2 separate regions of the Homo sapiens genome follow, and region 1 is linked to region 2. The links come from fine-mapping of genetic effects on gene expression. A gene starts in region 2. The other region holds a variant in brackets. All regions are shown on one strand. Distances are between the middles of the regions.

Region 1 (8,315 bases), 75 kb before region 2:
GAGGTCCCCCGGCGAGGGAGGGCAAGAACAGGGGCGGGTGGCCTGGTGGGGCCACCCTCTGGCTGAGGCCCCGTCTAGGGTGTGCAGGGAGCTCCTGGCTGAGGCCACAGGGAGCCAGCCTGGCACACAGCCTGGGTCGCTGTGTGCTGGCGAACCTGGGGCCTGGCTGCCGAGCGGAGGCTGGGTGGAAGATTGGACTGAGAGTGCTGTAGGGCACAGGGGGCTGGGGGCCAGCTCCACTGGGGCTGAAGGGGCTAGGAGGACACCGGGATTCCAGCCAGAGCCTCCAAGGCAGCCTCAGATGGAGCGTGTGTGGAGCCCGTGGGACGGCCTTAGGAGGTGTCCAGGGCGCGCATTCGTGCCGGTCTCACACTCAGGATGCAGCTGCAGGGTCCCCAGGGCACGTGGGAGTCGCGGGCATGAGTTCCTTTGGGAAGGGTGCCTGGGATGAGGGCTGGCGCTGGGCGTTGGGGGCGCCTGCTGCTAGGCCATTGTCTGGTGGACCTGTCCCTCTCCTGGGCTGAGGGGACTGTGCTGTGCGCTGTCCTCCACTGGGATGGGTTCTTGCTGTAAGACCTGGAGTCCTGGTCAAGCCTTCCTGCCTCTGCCTCCGTTTCCCTCCGTGAACAGGAGGCCTGTACACTGAGGGGGGTCTCAGTGTTGAGGGCTCAGCCTCGCCCCCAGCTGCAGCCATGGCTCACTAAGTCTCTATCTATGGTCTGTGTTCTGAAAGGCAGAATGATGGTCTCCAAAAGAGATCCGTGTCCTAATCCTAAGAGACTGTCTCCTTAGATAGCACAGCAGGATGGAAGCTGCAGATGGAATCAGGTTCCCGGTCACTGACCTGAGGAAGGGGAGGTTATCTGGATGGGCCCAGTGTTGTCAGGAGAGCCAAGGGCACTGAGCAGGGAGGCAGCGGAGGAAGACAGCGCGGCGTGGGAAGGGCCTGAGTCAGCAGTGCAGGCAGCTCCTAGAAGCTGGGAAAGGAAGGCACCCAGAAAGAACTGGCCCTGCAGACTAGCCCGGTGAGGTCCGTTTGAGGTAAGTTCATTTTGCCTCCAGCCACGAAGTTCATGGCAACTGCAGCAACAGGAGATGAAGGCAGATTTTGGTTCTAGGCATGAGGCACTGCTGTAGCAAATACCTAGAAAGGTGGAAGTGGCTTTGGAATTGGGCTGAAAGAATTTTGAGGGTGATAGAAAAAGCCCGTGATGTTGTTAAACAGGTGGTAGAAGGATGGAGGCGAGCGGGGCTCGAGGGGCTCGGAGGAACCAGCCTGGGCTCTGAGAAGAGTCAGAGCCCCTCTGACCCGCCCGTCCTCGGACATGTGGGGTTAAAGGTGCAGGTGGGAGCTCAGAGGGAAAGGAAAGAACGGGAGCCAGGGAGAGCCCCGTCCATGGGGGCAGAGGTGCAGCTGCACTCTGTCCCGTTGCCACGTGCGGGCAGCACTCGAGGGTGGTCAGCCTGGGCCCCTTGCGCTGCTCAGGTTGGCCACTAAGTGAGAGAAGGACATTAGCAGAGGGGTGAGCACCCTGCCATCGGGAATTCTCAGCTGAAGATGCTGATGTCAGGAGATTCACTGTCAGGAATGTGTGCTCAGAGTAACGGCCACACCAAGAGCTCCTGGAGGAGGGCGAGCCTGTGGCTGGTGGATGCCCCGGGTCACCCAAGCAGATGCTCAAAGCAGGGACCGCTGTGGGAGGTCTGTGGACGAGCCTTGGGTCTGTGGACGAGCCTTGGGTCTTACGGATCCGGTGAAGCCCTGTGGGAACCACGAGAGGCTCTTAAACCATCAGAAACTCAGCTGGCTTGGACTGAGGCAGAGGGGATGTGATGAAAGGCTCTTGAGCCCCAAAAATCAGCAGGCAGGAAGCAGACTAAACTGTTCAGCTGCAAACACTTGCTACGTTTCATAAATAGAGAGCATGGCCCTGAGGGTGGAGGTGTCAGCACAGAGGCAGAGTTGGGACCCACAGAAGGAGTTCCCAGGCCTTGCTGGGACGGAGGAAGTGTACCCAGCTGGATTTTGGATTTCTTGGGAGCAGCGACACAAGCACCTTGCAGCTTTCTCTGTGTGTCACGTGTGTGTGTGTGTGTATGCACATATAAATGACTGGGTTTCACCGTCACCCAAACTGGAGTGCTGGGTAATCCTAGCTCACTGCAGCCTCAGACTTCCGGGCTCAAGGGGTCCTCCCCCTTCAGACTCCTGAGTAGCCAGCACCACAGGTGCGAGCCACCACGCCCGGCTGATTTTGAAATATTTTGTAGAGTTGAAGTTTCACTACCCAGGCTGGTCTTGAACCCCTGGACTCAGGTGATCCTTTCTGTCTCAGCCTCCCAAAGTGCTGGACCGTCACACCCAGCCAAACTTTCCTTGAAAACAGGAGTGTCTGTGACTGGCATTCCGCGTCTGTTCTCTGGTCGTATTTTGGGAGCAGGTAACTGGTTTTCTAGCTTTCGGGGTCCACAGATGGAGAGGAAACTGCCCCAGGGTGGAATGCCCAGAGTGTCACCCATACCTGATCGGGGTAGCTTAGAGGGTGCGACTTGCGACTTGTGAGCTGATGAGCTGTACGTGAGGTTTGGGACTGGACTGGGTGCTGTGTTTGGTGGAGACTGTTGGGGCCGTGAGGGGAGGGATGCATTTGCACGTGGGATGGGTGTGAAGCAGCGGGAGTGGGAGGGTACTGCGTTCGGCCTGAGACATCCCTTACCACTGGTGATGTCCACATCTAGTCCCATGGAAGTGAACGTGCCACCCAGCAGCAAAGGGGAATGAAAGCAGCGATGGGATTAAGGCAATCAGCTGACCTTGAGAGGCAGAGATGGTCTGGGCCCAGTGAGAGCACGAGGCCTTCATCGTGGAAGCTGGACGCAGGTTGGGATGCGCAGGACACAGCTGTGAGGAGGCTCCACCCACGCTCCTGGCTGCGAAGGTGGAGACCCCAGGCCACGGGATGCAGGCGGCCACAGGTCCTCCCCTGGAGCCTCCAGGAGGAGCACACCTTGATTCTAGACCAGGGCACCCCTTGAGTGAGACCTGCCCAGTCCTTGACTCTGGGACTGTGAGGTATTGGTGTTTTAAGCTTCTTACTTTGCGGTAACTATGGCGGTGATAGGAAACCACAGGAGACAATGCATCTACCAAGCAGGCCAAGGCGTTCTTACAGGGTCCTGGGGGCAGGTGCACAAGAGGGCCCAACTCCCCGGCATGAGACCCACAGTGTAGACTGTGCCAGTCTGGCTGGCACGAACGTGGCTCCCCGGGTAGTGTTCCCTGCACGTCTGTCAGCCCTGCCCGCTCTCCAGCAGGCCCCGCTGCCTGGAAAGTCGCCACTGGTTCTCCCTCCTGTTGCTGGCCTCCTCCTCTCTGGCTCTCTGCTGACCCCGACCCCTTGCCAGATCACACCAAGAGACTTGGGTTGGTGGTAGGGAGTTGGGGTGGGATGGGGAGAAGTCACTGGAGTGAGTGGGGAGGCACTGGACTTAGGGCAGAGGGCCTGGGCACCACACCACTGGAGGGCAGGAGGCAGGCAGGACGGGGAGGCAGGGCCAGTCCACCTGTGGTGAGCTCCCTGGCGGGATGGGAGCAGGGCAGCTGGAACGCCCCACCTTGAAGCTGGCATGCGGGCATCAGCCTCCTGCAAGCTCTGAGGCTTTGTGACACCAGGAATTGTTCCATCTTATAGCTTAGGAGGCTGGGGCTCTGTGCCTCTGCCTTCAGCTGACGGAAAAGCCCAGGGCAGGCTCCCCATGGAGCAGACCTAGGCCTGGACTGCTGTGTGCAGGGCCCCTCCCTGGAGCACCCACCTCCCACCTGCATCCTGTACAGGAGGTGGGTCAGACTGTCGTCCCCCGCCACCCACCTGCCATCCCATGGGTGGGCTCACCAGTCGGCTCGTTCACCAGGGCCCTAGCTCTCAGGCCAGGCCGTGGCAGGCTCTGAGCCCAGATGTGTCCGTCGGATTAGCCACCTGGGAACTGAGGACCAGGACTGTGAAGCCATCCTCTAGGTGGGCAGACCGGCCACCACATCCTTTTTCAATCTCCATTTTAATTTCTTCATAGAAATGATGTGAGGACCGACTGGTGTAAAGTGA[G/A]ACTAGTGTCTGCCACATCAGAAGTCCTGCCATATTTGTTTTCATTTTTTATATAAACCAGCAGATTCTGGCTTAGCTCGCTTTGGGTTCTGTTACTTACAACCAAGAGAGCTTGGTGTCAGAAGTGGGACTGCAGGACACAGCCCCTTCCTGAGCAGTGGGGAGCTGGCAGGACTCTTGACACACTGTTTCCTTTTGGGCCTCCAGTCATGGGCCTGAGAAGGCTGACTTCTCACCGTGAATGTTTAGAGGAGGGCCAGGAGTGCGTGTGTCAGCCGCTCTCAGAGAAGCAGGTGCAGGACCACAGGTCAGGAAGGCTTCCGGTCCAGGGCCAGTAGCCTGCGACCCCACAGACTGTCCTGTGCCTCACTGAACCGTAGCAGCCAAATTCCTTTCCTCAGCCTGTTTCTTAAGGTAAAATGAACTGGGAAACTGTAATCCAGGGATTGGAATGGATCCTGATTCCCTGGGCCCCTCCCAAGTGCCTTCTCTTCAGGGTACCAACCTCCTGTGAGCTCAGCCACTTGGCAGTCCAGGGTCAAACAGAGGACGGCTCAGCTTCCCTCTGTGTCCTGGGCTCTGAGCGGAGCCCTGAGCTAACTAAGCCTGACTAACATGGTGACCCCCTGGCTCCCTCCAGAGAGATGGGTACAGGCACAGCTTGAAGTTCAGGGCAGTGGCTCTCACCTGGGGGTGATTCTGTCCCCTACCAGGAGACTCATGGCAATGTCTGGGGACGTTTTGTCACAATGGAGGTGGGACAGCTACTAGCTTCTGTTGGGCTGAGACCAGGGATGTGGCCCCCACCCCATCATCATCTCCCCCCTCAGCCATGTGCTTAGCACCTGCTCCAATGATAGACAGCTGGGTGCAGTCCGGCGCATCTGAGTCCTTCACGTGGGAGGGAAGTGTGCGTGGGCCTCCCAGGGCAGCTCTGTGGACGCCGCAGTCTCTGCGTGGACCCTGCTGAGGCCTGCTGCTGGCCTCCTCCAGGCCGCGGTGGACTCCCGGCCACTGGCCTCACACAGCATGGGCCTGGACTTGCCCTTCTGCTGCGGCGGCAGAGGGGCAGCTGGGCCAGGGCGTCGTGCCAGTGGAGCCCACGGCCCTGGCTGCCCTCTGTGGCAGGTATGGCTGGGACCATCCCCGCTCTAGCTCCAGGGGCTGTGCTCAGCCTGGGCCCCTCACTCCCAAGGCTGGGTCATGGCACCCTATCCGGACCCTTCCCAAGTAAGGAGTGGGAAGAAGGCTCATTCTCCAGGAAAAGGCCCAGGCCCTGGGTGGCCGTGCAGGCCTTGTGGGGTGGCAGAGGTGCCGTGCAAAGAGAGCTCCGCCCAGGCCCTGGCCCTCAACGGGAGCCCGCCTCAGGCTGGGGCAGCCTCGGGGGATGGCCCCACACATCGGAAGTGACCTCTGACCTTGGCCGCCCGGAATCTCACCCTCTTCAGCTGGGCAGAGGGTAGCTGCATTCACACTGGCGCAGCCCAGGGGCTGCAAGTGGGGAACAAGAAGCTGTCCCGGGCTGTCACAGAGCCCTGCGCGCCCGCCCTGCCCAGATGAAGACCTGCGTCGCTGTCTTTGCGGAAGGGATTTATTGTTCCGGAGCTGCAGCTGCTCACAGTTATGACAGGGGTACACTGCAGGGGCTTGCCCATTTCCGTGGCGCCTGCTGGAGTCCGCGTGTGTCCGAAGCACAAAAGGGGAAGGCAAGCAAGAGGCAGTTTGCTTCGTGTCCTCGATCTCCGTGGAGAGCCCCTTCCCGCCTGTACCGCCTGGCGTTTGCTGTCCTAGGTGTTTGCTTTTGTTCTTATGTATAGAAATCCCAGCCTGTGGCAGAGGTCTAATGTTAACAGAAGCGTTAAAATCTATACACGAGGTGGGTGGGAGGCAGGGGCAGGCACCGAAGCAGACAGACGACTCCATGGCAGAGGCATGCATCAGACCCGCCGTCCCCCACGGCCGCCGCACCCGGGCTGTGCCCGCCTGGGAGGGCTGGGCACATGGGCGGAAGGGAACACAGAAGCTGGAGCTGGGGTGAAGCACGGCGGCGGGCACTGGGCAGGGTGGGCCTGCAGCCCTCTGAGGGCTGCGCCCTGGGCCTCGCTCTGCACAGAACGCCCTGCAGAGGAGCGCCACCGACTCTTTGTCCTTTTTTTTCAATTTTTTCATTTTAATAAGAAAAGCCTCACAGTGCCCCTGCCGTCCTGTGTGTGGGGAGGGCCAGCTGAGGGCCCTCCTCCTACCCCTTCACCTTTGGACACAAAACCAAGATTGCCCCAGCCTGACAGAGGGGCGCTGGCGCTGCCGCCCGCTACAAGACACCGCCCCTCTGCCCCGAGCCCCCCCAGAGGTGGAGCTGCTTCTCCACAGAGAGACGGAACCCATGACAGAGCGAGCCGCACCGTCTTTAGATGTGTGTGTAGAAAGAAGCAGGAGCAAGGGACTAAAACACAAAACCTGGCCCTGCCCCAGCGGCGCCCCCACCCCCACACCCTTTTCCAAAAACCACCAAGAAAAAAAAGTTTATAAAAATATCTTGCAGGAATTCTTTAAAGTTTACAGTAGCTCGCCAGCCCCCCCGCGCCCCACCAGCTCTGTCCTCAGAGGGCGCCCTGGCCCCAGCCCCCCCACTGCCTGAGACACGCAGACGGCAGGGGATGTGGCCGCCGCCCTTCCCTGAACAGAGGTGCGGAGAATCCATAAATTAAAACGGCAAATAAATAACACTGATCCCAGCCCAGCGGCCTGGCCTGCTGGGAAGGCTCTGGTGCCGCAGGGTGTCTCTGTTTCCACCTCAGCCAGAGAGGAGCGCCAGAGCCCACAGCCGCCCCAGATGAGGCAAGGGAGGCGCGGGTGAGACGAGAGGACGGGAGGCAGCCTGAGGAGGCCAAGACTACACGGAGGCGGCGCAGCCAGGGAGGCGGGGCACGGGCCTGCGAGGAGGCCTCCAGGTGCGGCGTGGAGGCGGTGGACGGGGCCTGTTCCTGTGGCTACGTTGCCCACCAGGGGTCCTGGCCCCAGAAGGCCACCAGGCAGGCTGTTCTTGCTGAGGGGTCAGGTGACCGGGAGTCCGGGTCGGCCGGGCTGGAGGAGGCTCCCCCGAGCCTGGCCTTCCTCCCACGGGCCGTGCGGAGCTGAGGCGAGGAGCTGCCGCGGGGTGGACGGGGCGCTGGGCTGGGCCTCACTGCCCGGCAGCAACAGCAGGAGCGGAGGGAGGGCGGGTCCGCAGCAGCTGCCTTCGGTCACAGAGGATGGCCTCGTGGAGGTGACATGTTAACTTTTCGGGATAATTCCTGGTATCAGAGTGGAAACAAGCGATGCTGTCAGAGACAGGCAGAGGCAGAGACAGAGAGAAAAGAGAGCGGGCGCGGGTGGCGCAGCCCACAGGCCGGCCCCAACGCCCCTTTCCTTTCCTCCCAGGCTCTGAGAACAGTCTGGACGGACGGGCGGCGCGGCCGCGGGTCCACTCGGGGCAGGGCGGGCGGCGGGCGGCGAGGCAGCCGCTGTCAGTGCTGTGCTGGGGGGGGGGGCTAGTGTGTCTAAGGCTGCTCGCGGCGGGCGGTGGGCGGGCCCATCTTGGCCGTGTCCTTGCCCGTTGGGTACTCGGCGTCCCCTCCGGGGCCAGGGCCAGCGGCCGCGGAGTCACCGAGTGGGCCGTGGGCACTCCGCTTGGCGGGCGTGCTGGGGGCCTGGGCCGCCTGCCCGTTCTTCTCGTCTGAAAAAAGTTGTTTAATTACGTCAAAGAAGTTACTCAATGGGCTGCCTGGGTACACAGAACAGAGACAAAAAAAAAAAAAAAAAGGAAAAAAGAAAAAAAAGGGGGAGAGAAAGAGGAGGGGAGGGAAGGAGAGAGAAAGAGAACAAACAAACAAATGAACGAAGAGGCCTCGACGAGGGAAAGAACCCAGAGATGAGGCTGAGATGGGGCCGAGCGGGGACCGGTGGGCGGCAAGCAGGGTGGGCAGGCGGCGGCCGGCAGGGGCCCTGTACGCTGGGGGCTGTGCGGTGGGGAAGCTGTGCGCCGTGGGGCCAGGAACTTAGGACCCCAGCGCCTCCGAGCTGTTGCGCAGGACCCAGTGCTCCTTTGGCGAAGCGAGGCTCGGGGCAGGTGGTGAGACCCCTCCCTCCCCACCAAGGCCTGGCCCGGAAGGCCCTGCCCCACCCCCCTTCCCTCCCCACCTTGCAGCCGTGAGGGCCGACCCACCCCAACGC
Region 2 (8,315 bases):
CAGCCTAGGTCCCTCCCCCACGCCACAGCAGGTGAACACTGCCAGGTGAGCTGCAGGGCAGCCCCTCATCCTAGCTCCTTCGTTCCCTCGCAGGGAGCCCTATCGCGGCCATTATTCCTTTCTCCCGCCCCCCAGACAGAGGATTCCCGAAGGCAGGCCCCTCATCGTCCCATGCAGCCCACCCGCCTGCCCCCAAGAACAGCTCCAAGGGCCCGAGGTTCTCCAGCTCCTCCCACAGGGCCCTCCCAGGCCTCCCAGATTTCAGGAGCTAAGCCGAGGTTTGGGCAAGAAGGTGCCCTGCTCCACGTACTGATGGGGCACAGGGACAAAGGCGCGCAGGGACAAAAGCCACCCAGCCCGTGCCACACACCCTCCTGGACCTGCATGCTCCAACTCGGAGTGTCTGCGCCCTCCAACCTCCATGGTTGCCCTTGCTGGCAGGGACTGTGTCTCGGCATCTCTGCAGGGGTCAAGCTCAGATGAGGCTACACAAGCCTTTCTCAGCCCCAAGAAAAGCTAAGGCAGCACCTTTGCAGGTGGGTTCCCACCCCAACCCCAGCCTACATCCCCCTAAGTCTTGGCCAGAAACCACCAAGCAGCCGGCGAGGAGGCTTCCACAGATGCTCAGTGCTCTGACGGCTTCACCTGGTGCCTGGCACCGGCAGTGAGACCACTGAAGGCAACCCCCACAGCCACCGAGGGGAGCTGTGCAGAGGACGCCCCATGCAGAAGGACGACCCTACAGCCACACTGGCCCTGCAGGACGCACAGACCCAACAAGACAGGGAGGTGCCGTACAGGTGAGACCATGCAGCGCTCACGCTGAAAGGCAGAAGAAGACAGCCGACCGGACCCTGCGGCGTCTAGAAGGGCGTCCTCCAGGCCCCGGTGGGGGTGCTGCGTGGTCTCCCCTCCCCACACGGCCAGACTCCCCAAGGGCAGGTTTCGGACCACATCTTTGGCCCACCGTCCAGCAGGCCCCAGCTTGGGTCAGCCGGGTGGAAGGGCTCTCGTGGCACCACAAGGCTCACTGCCACTGCCACTGACCACCTCCCTCTCAGTGGCCACCTCAAGTCGAGCAGCTCCTCCTTCCAAGGTCTCAGGCTGAGAGAGATGAACAGAGAGGGCCAAACAAAGCTGCCAGCCACAGACACGGGGAAGGGGCTGGAGTCGCGTCCACACCAATGGCCCCCCAAGCAAGGCCTCCACAGCTCCCCTGTGGCCAGGTCCCTGGAAGGAGAAGCGTTCTCAACGGCAGGATCAGATCGTCCTCGGGTGGTGGCGGCCAGAAGCCCAGCCTCCCGTTCTCCCACGGAGGTCTCCTGGCAGGAAGCCTATCTCCCTCTTGAGCTTGGGACCTGGCAGCTCTCCTGGCATCTGGTGCCAAGTGGCCCAGCACACACACTCCAGGCCCCATGTCCACCCAACTCCTGGTGACCCTTCAGCAGCAGCAACAGAAGACGCACAGAAATGGTGGCCTTCTCCAGGGCCCTCCCGGTGACACGCTTGCGCTCTGCCCGTCATAACTCGGGAGAGAGGGGCCGCTTTGTGCCCCCCCTCGAGCTGTTTTCTAAATATCTCTCTCAGCACGTTGTAGACACACACAGCCCATCCTTTTGTATTCATTACTGTTAATTACAGTGGAAACCTCCCGTAATTAACTGCCGCCAGCAGAATGCCATGAAGAGTGGAGACCAGCCCCTACCCACCGAGGCCGCGCACAGCACATAACTCATCGTGTCTTCATTTACACGCAGATGTTTCCTTATAATAACATTTTATTGGGACCGTAATTGGATTATCTCACTGACTCCTGCATCCTGCTGCCCTGGGCCCCTCCTTCACCACGGATTTCACACACTAGTTTTTCTTTCCGGGAAAGACGAGAATTTTGAACTCAGGTGACATGGGCTGAATGCCACCTCCTTCTCCAACCCAGGCTGCACCACCCCACCTGCCCAGGTCCTGCCCTGTGGCCAGGGGCCCTTCCGTGCCGTGGCGGGTGGCGGAAGGCTGTGCACCCAAGGTGAGGCAGCTCCCCTGAACCCCTCAGTCTAAACCCCTTCCTGCAGCTCTGCCGTAGTTACATCACAGCCACGGCCCTCCCCCAAGAGCCTGGGCCTGGCCCACTTTCTTTCCCCAACGCCACCTCCCAGCTCCTCCTCTGTGCAGCCGTGAGGGGCTGAGCCTCCACCCTGCACCAGCGCTCTCCTCCTCCTTCCCTCCACCCCTGCCCGCCCGGGTCTAAGGAACTTCTCGGATTGGAAGGGAGAGGCAGTGCCGTGGGACCTCGGGGACACCAAGAGACAGGCCGGTCCTGAGAGAAGAAAGAAAATGGCTGAGCCCCAGCCTCCACAAAGGCGACTCTGTGAATGTGCCTGACCAGATGAAGGGCTAGCCAAACCCAGCGGGCCGGGGAGAGTTGGCCACATGCGAGGGTAGCTGGGTTGCCTCTGGCCTGGGTTCGGCCCCGCAGGGACCCGGCCTGTTCCCTAGAATGACAGCCAGGCCCCACCGGGAAGCCCCCTCCACCGGCAGGCCGCGGGGCTGCTCCACGGGTCAGGTCCCACGCACTTCTGGTCCCAGCACCAATGGCCTCTCCCTGCCCCGTGGGAATGCAGGTCACAGACGCTCCGCCCGCCCGAGCCCGAGCCGGAGCAGCGCAAGGCGCTGTCCAGCCCTCTGCAGGTCCCCGCACTCTCCCGCCCCCACCGCGGAGGGAGATCGGGCCTGCCCGGAGGCCCCGGTGGCCGGCGCGCGGAGGTGGGAGTCCCGCCGGGGGCGCAGCTGCTCGGGCAGCACGCCTATTAGCGCGGCCGCGGCAGACGGCAGATGGGCGCCCGCGCGGCCCCCTCCTCCCGCGGCACAATGGGCCCGGTCGCTGGGGCGCACAATGCGGCCCGGGCCGCGCACCTGCAGCGGGGCCCGAGGGGCGCCGTCCCGTGCGCCCCTGTCCGCCTGCGCGCCCCGCGCCGCGCCGCGTGTCCTTGGGCCGCGCCCGGCCGACCGCAGCCAAGCGGCCTGCGGGATCCGCGGCGGAACCGGGGCGCACGAGCGGACGGGGGCGCACGGGCCGCCCATTGTTCGCGGCCGGGGCCCGGGCCGGGCCTGCGGCTTCGCGGCCGGGGCCTCCCTCGGGCGCCCCCCACCCAGCGCGCTGCCAGCGCGGCCTCCCCGGCCCCGGTCCCCGCCCCGGCCGCACGCACCTGTCTGCCCCTTGCCCAGCGTCTTCTCCAGCCGGTAGGGCCCAACATACTGCGCGTGCTGCGCGCCGCCGTCCTTCCCCGTCGATGTCATCGCTCTGGGGCCCGGCGCCGGCCAGGGGCGCCCGGGCGCGCGGGCAGGGAGGGGCCGCCCAGCGTCCGCCCGCGTCCGCCGAGTGCCGTCCGCGCCGACCCGGCCGGGGCGCCCCCGCGGGCCCCGCTGCTTCGCGCCGCCCGCGTCCGCCCGCGCCGCCGCCCCCCGCGTCCACTCCGACGCGGCAGTCCGAGGCCTGGCCCGCGGCGACGCCTCCGCCTCGTCGAGAGGACAGGGCGGGCGGGGGCACCTGGCTTCCGCCGCCGCCGCCGCCGCCGCCGCCGAGGCCCGCGCCCCGCGCCCCGCGCCCCCAGCGCACGCCCGTCAGCGGCCGCGCAGCCGAGCCGAGCCGAGCCGAGCCGAGCCGTGCAGCTGAGCCGAACAGCCGAGCCCAGCAGCCGAGCCGAGCCGAACAGAGCCGAGACGAGCCGAGCCGCGCAGCTGAGCCGAACAGCCGAGCCCAGCAGCCGAGCCGAGCCGAACAGAGCCGAGCCGCGCAGCCGAGCCATGTAGCCAAGCCGAACAGCCGAGCCCTGTAGCCAAGCCGAACAGCCGAGCCGAACAGCGGAGTCGAGCGCAGCTGAGGGGAGCCGAGCCGGGCCGCGCAACGGAGCCGAGTCGACACGAGCCTGTACGAACGCAGCGGGATGCCGTGGCGGCGGCAAGCGGTGCCCGCGCCGGCCAATCAGCGCCTCCCCACCCCGCCCCGCCGCTACGAGCGCTCGGGGAGACTCTAGGGGGCGAGGCGAGGCCAGGGCGAGGCCGGGACCTGGGAGCCTCCAGCCCGCCGGCTGCCACGTCCGGTCCCACCAGGCAGCAGAGCTCCCGCTGCCGCCCGACCCGCCATTAAGGCGCATCCCGGGACGGAGCAGGCAGTGGGCCCATGGCGAGGGGGTGCAGATGGCTGCCCTGGACGGGGGTTTTACCCTGCAGGGCGTGACCCCGGGTGTCCCAAAGAGTTTCCCGCCCCTCGAGGGGGTGCTGCACGCGCGGGGGATGGGGATGCTGCCCTGGAGGGGGGCGAGTGTTGCATGCGGGGCGGGAGTGCTGTACTGGGGAGAGGTGCTGTATTCGGGGCAGGGGTGCTGCACACATGGGGGGTGCTGCACGCCAGCGAGGGGCATGCTGCGCTGGAGGGGGCGGGTGTTGCATGCAGGGCGCGGATGCGGCACACGTGGCGGGGGGGCTGCATGGGAGTCTGTGGGGCTACTGCACGCGGGCGTTGTCCAAGCAGAGATTGTGCACCCCCAGGGAGGACGTGGCCCTCCGCCTCCGCTCCCGAGGGAGAAGCGGCGGTTTTCCCAGTTATGCCACAGTGACCTGCGCGGCGCGGAGTCAAGGAACTCACCTGGGATCCGGCCGCAGCGCCCTGGCGCCTCCCGGCCCTTGCTACCGACCCCTCTTTCAGGTTGAGCAGCTGGGCAGGGGTTGCCGGGAGCAGCCTTTGGAGGTCTAAACACAGGCAGCCGAAGAGGCAGCCAGACCTGGACGGACCCTCTGTTTCTTTGCAGAAAAACACTGGTATTTCCTTAAGCCCGTGCTGCAGAAGGTGGTGGGAGGGGAGAGGTGAGGGAGACCCGGAACGCTGCAGAAGTGGGGGTCCCAGATCTTGCCCGTGTATGGTCTGCGGGCAACGTTTCCCCTGCGGGCTCTGCCACACACTGCTGCTGACCGTGGTCCGCTCCCCACGCTGGTAAGCCCGTATGAGCTCAGGAAACTGCGGGGTCTTCCCAGTGCGCCCTCCTGCTCTTTGGGCTGTCTGTATTTCCAGCTGGGGAGGGGAGTGGGCCCCAAAGCACCTGTCCACTCTCGGCCTGCACCCGCCCGCCCTGCTTCCCTTCAAATGCTGTGGACTAAGGGTCCTCCCTACCCAATTCTGGGGCCTCTGAGCATGAGCAATCAGGGCCCCACCAGTGGGGGCAGGGGAGGGGGGCTGAGAGCATGGGACAGAGGCAGAGGGCACTCCCCTTTCCCCCGCTGCTGCTGCTGTGAGTGGGGACAGCAGACATTTTTAGCTGAATGTAGACTGGGACCTCCAGCTGGAGAAACTGTCAAGCAGTGAGGTCTGGCTGGAGGCTGACTGGGAGTGGTCTGGTCCAGGTGCCAACAGAGGCCGAGGGTGTGCAGGAGACCAGGAGAGGGCGTCAGGCCACAGCCAGAGGGCAGGGGCACTTGACCTGAGATGCCCTCTCTCTGCTGCCATGGTCACCTGGCCTCCCAGGCTGCAGCAGAGTCAGACGCACCTTTGTGACATCCTCAGCAGCATTTTGCCCTATTGACCGTTTGCATCCGGCTACTCCAGTGGCCAAAATTCTTGCTTTCTTCCTTCCCACCTCCTTGCCAGCCTGCATCCCTCTCCCAACCCTCACTGCAGCCCTGAGGCCTTTTCTTCCCTGTCTGTGTCTGAGCAGCCTATGCCATTGGTGGCCTCTGGGGCTCAGTCTGGGGCCTCTCTTCTGGCTCCCTGCCTGTCCTCCGGGCGCAAGAGGCTAGTCAGCCTTCAGCCTCTTGAGTGCCTATCCTCAAATCGCCCTCCCAGCCTCCCTTGGCCCTGCTGTCCCCTCTTGAAGGTGCTGCACAAAACCCCAGACTCAACGCCTTCTCCATAGCACGCCGCGCCCTCCCTGCTGCCATCTTTGTGGGGATCAACAGGATGACTGCCCTTCCTTCCAGCGGGCCTGGTACTGGGGTGCCCCAGGAGAGGGTGTACCAGGGTGTGGCCAGCCAGTAGATGCCCACGACTGTGATGCCACAGCCCTCGGTCCCCCTCTGTCGCGTGTAAGGTGGGAGCAGGAGCCCCAAAGGAGCCAGGGCTCTCGAGCACGAAGGTCTGTTGCCGGAGTTAGGAAAGGGCCCAGTCTCACAAAGACGTCCAGGCCAAGACTCACCAGTGGAGCCCACCAAACACTAATGGAGGAAAAGCACCCCGCTACACAGACACTTCCAGGACACAGAGGAAGACGGGCCATGTCCCAGCTCCTCTGTGAAACTGTCATCACCCTGGTGCCAAAACCATGCAAGGACATGACAAGAAAATTAAAGTCCACTCAGGAGCCTAGACACAAAAATCCCTTAACAAAACATCAAATCAATTCCAGCAATATATAAAGAGAACACATATGACCTTGTGGAGCGTACCCGGGAATGCAAAGTTAGTTTAACATTTCAAAATCAATTGTCATTCACTATTAGCAGACCAACACAGAAAAACCACACGGTCATTTCCACAGATGCAAGGAAAGCATTCAACAAAATTCAGCACTCATTCACGACAAAGGCTCTCAGTAAACCAGGAGGAGAAGATTCGAATCTATTCTGCTCCTGCACTCCCAACCCAACAAAGGGAAACTACAAAAACCCACAGCTAATGTCAGGCTTAGTGGTGAGAAACTGAAAGCTTTTCCTTGGGTCAGGGATGGGGCAAGGTTGTCCATCATCATCATTTATTTCAGTGTCGTGCCAGAGTACATGCCGAAGTAATGAGGCAAGGAAGACAAAATTTGTACCAGTTGAAAAGGAAATTTTTTATTATTATTATTATTTTTTTTTTTTTTTTGAGATGGAGTCTTGCTCTGTCGCCCAGGCTGGAGTGCAATGGCCCGATCTCGGCTGACTGCAAGCTCCGCCTCCCGGGTTCACGTCATTCTCCTGCCTCAGCCTCCCAAGTAGCTGGGACTACAGGTGCCCGCCACCACGCCCGGCTAATTTTTTTTTATTTTTAGTAGAGGCGGGGTTTCACCGTGTTAGCCAGGATGGTCTCGATCTCCTGACCTCATGATCCACCCGCCTCGGCCTCCCAAAGTGCTGGGATTACAGGCGTGAGCCACCGTGCCCAGCCAAAAAGGAAATTTTAGGTGATCTTTATTAGAAGATAACATTAATGGCCGGGCACGGTGGCTCACGTCTGTAATCCCAGCACTTTGGGAGGCTGAGGCGGGCAGATCACCTGAGGTCAGGAGTTCGAGACCAGCCTGGCCAACCTGGTGAAACCCTGTCTCTACTAAAAATACAAAAATTAGCTGGGTTTGGTGATGGGCACCTGTAATCCCAGCTACTCAGGAGGCTCAGGCAGGAGAATCGCTTGAACCCACGAGGCAGAGTTTGCAGTGAGCCGAGATCATGCCATTGCACTCCAGCCTGGGCAACAAGAGCAAAACTCCATGTCAGAAAGTAAAACAAGAAGATAACATTATTGTCTGCAGAAAATTCTAAGCTACAAACTGGTACTAAAACGAATAAGTAAGTTTACCAAAGCCACAGGGTACAAAGCCAAAAAAAGGTCAATTCTATTTGTGTGCTAACCATCAATTAGAAGTTGAAATTATGAAAACAGTACCACTTACAAAGAGAATTTAAAAACCACGAAATACTAGGGGTAAATTTATCAGAATTTGCATGAGATCTGTACACAAAAAACGATTATACATCTCTCAGTATATTAAGTGAGACTTAACAAGGCCCAAGTAATCGATTTAATTTTAATTTGATTTTTTAAATTTTCTCTTTTTTTTTTTTTTTTTTTTTAGAAATTGACAAGCTGCCAGGTGCAGTGGCTCATGCTTGTACTGCCAGCACTTTGGAAGGCCAAGGTGGGAGGATAGCTTGAGCCCAGGAATTTGAGACCAGCCTGGGCAGCATAGCAAGACTCCATCTGATATAGTTTGGGTATTTGTCCCCGCCCAGACATATGTTGAAATGGAATCTTCAGTGTTGGAGATGGGGCCTGCTGGGAGATGTTTTGGTCATGGGGTGGATTCCTCGGGGCTTGGTGCTGTCCTTGCAATGGTGAGTATTCGTGAGATCTGGTTAAGTGGGAGCCTCCCCTCCCACTCTCTCTTGCTCCCACTTCTGCCGTGTGAGACCCCTGCTCCCCCTTTGCCTTCCACCGTTATTGGAAGCTTCCGGATGCCATGCTTCCTTTACAGCCTGCAGAACCATAAGCCAATTAAACCTCTTTTTAAAATAAACTACCAGTCTCAGGTATTTATAGCAACACAAGAACAGCCTAACACATTATC

Alleles and levels. Alleles are on the strand shown, and positions count from the first base shown. SD is a standard deviation of normalised expression in the study named.
For the expression in sun-exposed skin of the gene that starts at base 3,648 in region 2, allele G in region 1 goes with a higher level than allele A (moderate effect, 0.49 SD a copy in GTEx).

What was found. PIP is the estimated chance that this variant, and not a neighbour inherited with it, causes the effect.
Region 1: its variant is the best candidate, but not a certain one, in a credible set for the expression of BRSK2 in sun-exposed skin (GTEx, PIP 0.86).

What each region holds. Positions count from the first base shown.
Region 1 is chr11:1,460,051-1,468,365 of GRCh38, reverse strand. It overlaps BRSK2 (BR serine/threonine kinase 2), which reads right to left. Exons shown (of 20, transcript NM_001256627.2): 20 at 5,677-7,866. The coding sequence ends at 7,643. Among named protein-coding and RNA genes, the nearest start is that of MOB2, 23 kb to the left of the region's middle. The variant G/A (reference allele first, on the strand shown) is at 4,104.
Region 2 is chr11:1,385,267-1,393,581 of GRCh38, reverse strand. BRSK2 (BR serine/threonine kinase 2) reads right to left here and starts at 3,648. Exons shown (of 20, transcript NM_001256627.2): 1 at 3,207-3,648. The coding sequence starts at 3,297. RefSeq lists a silencer at 3,882-4,251.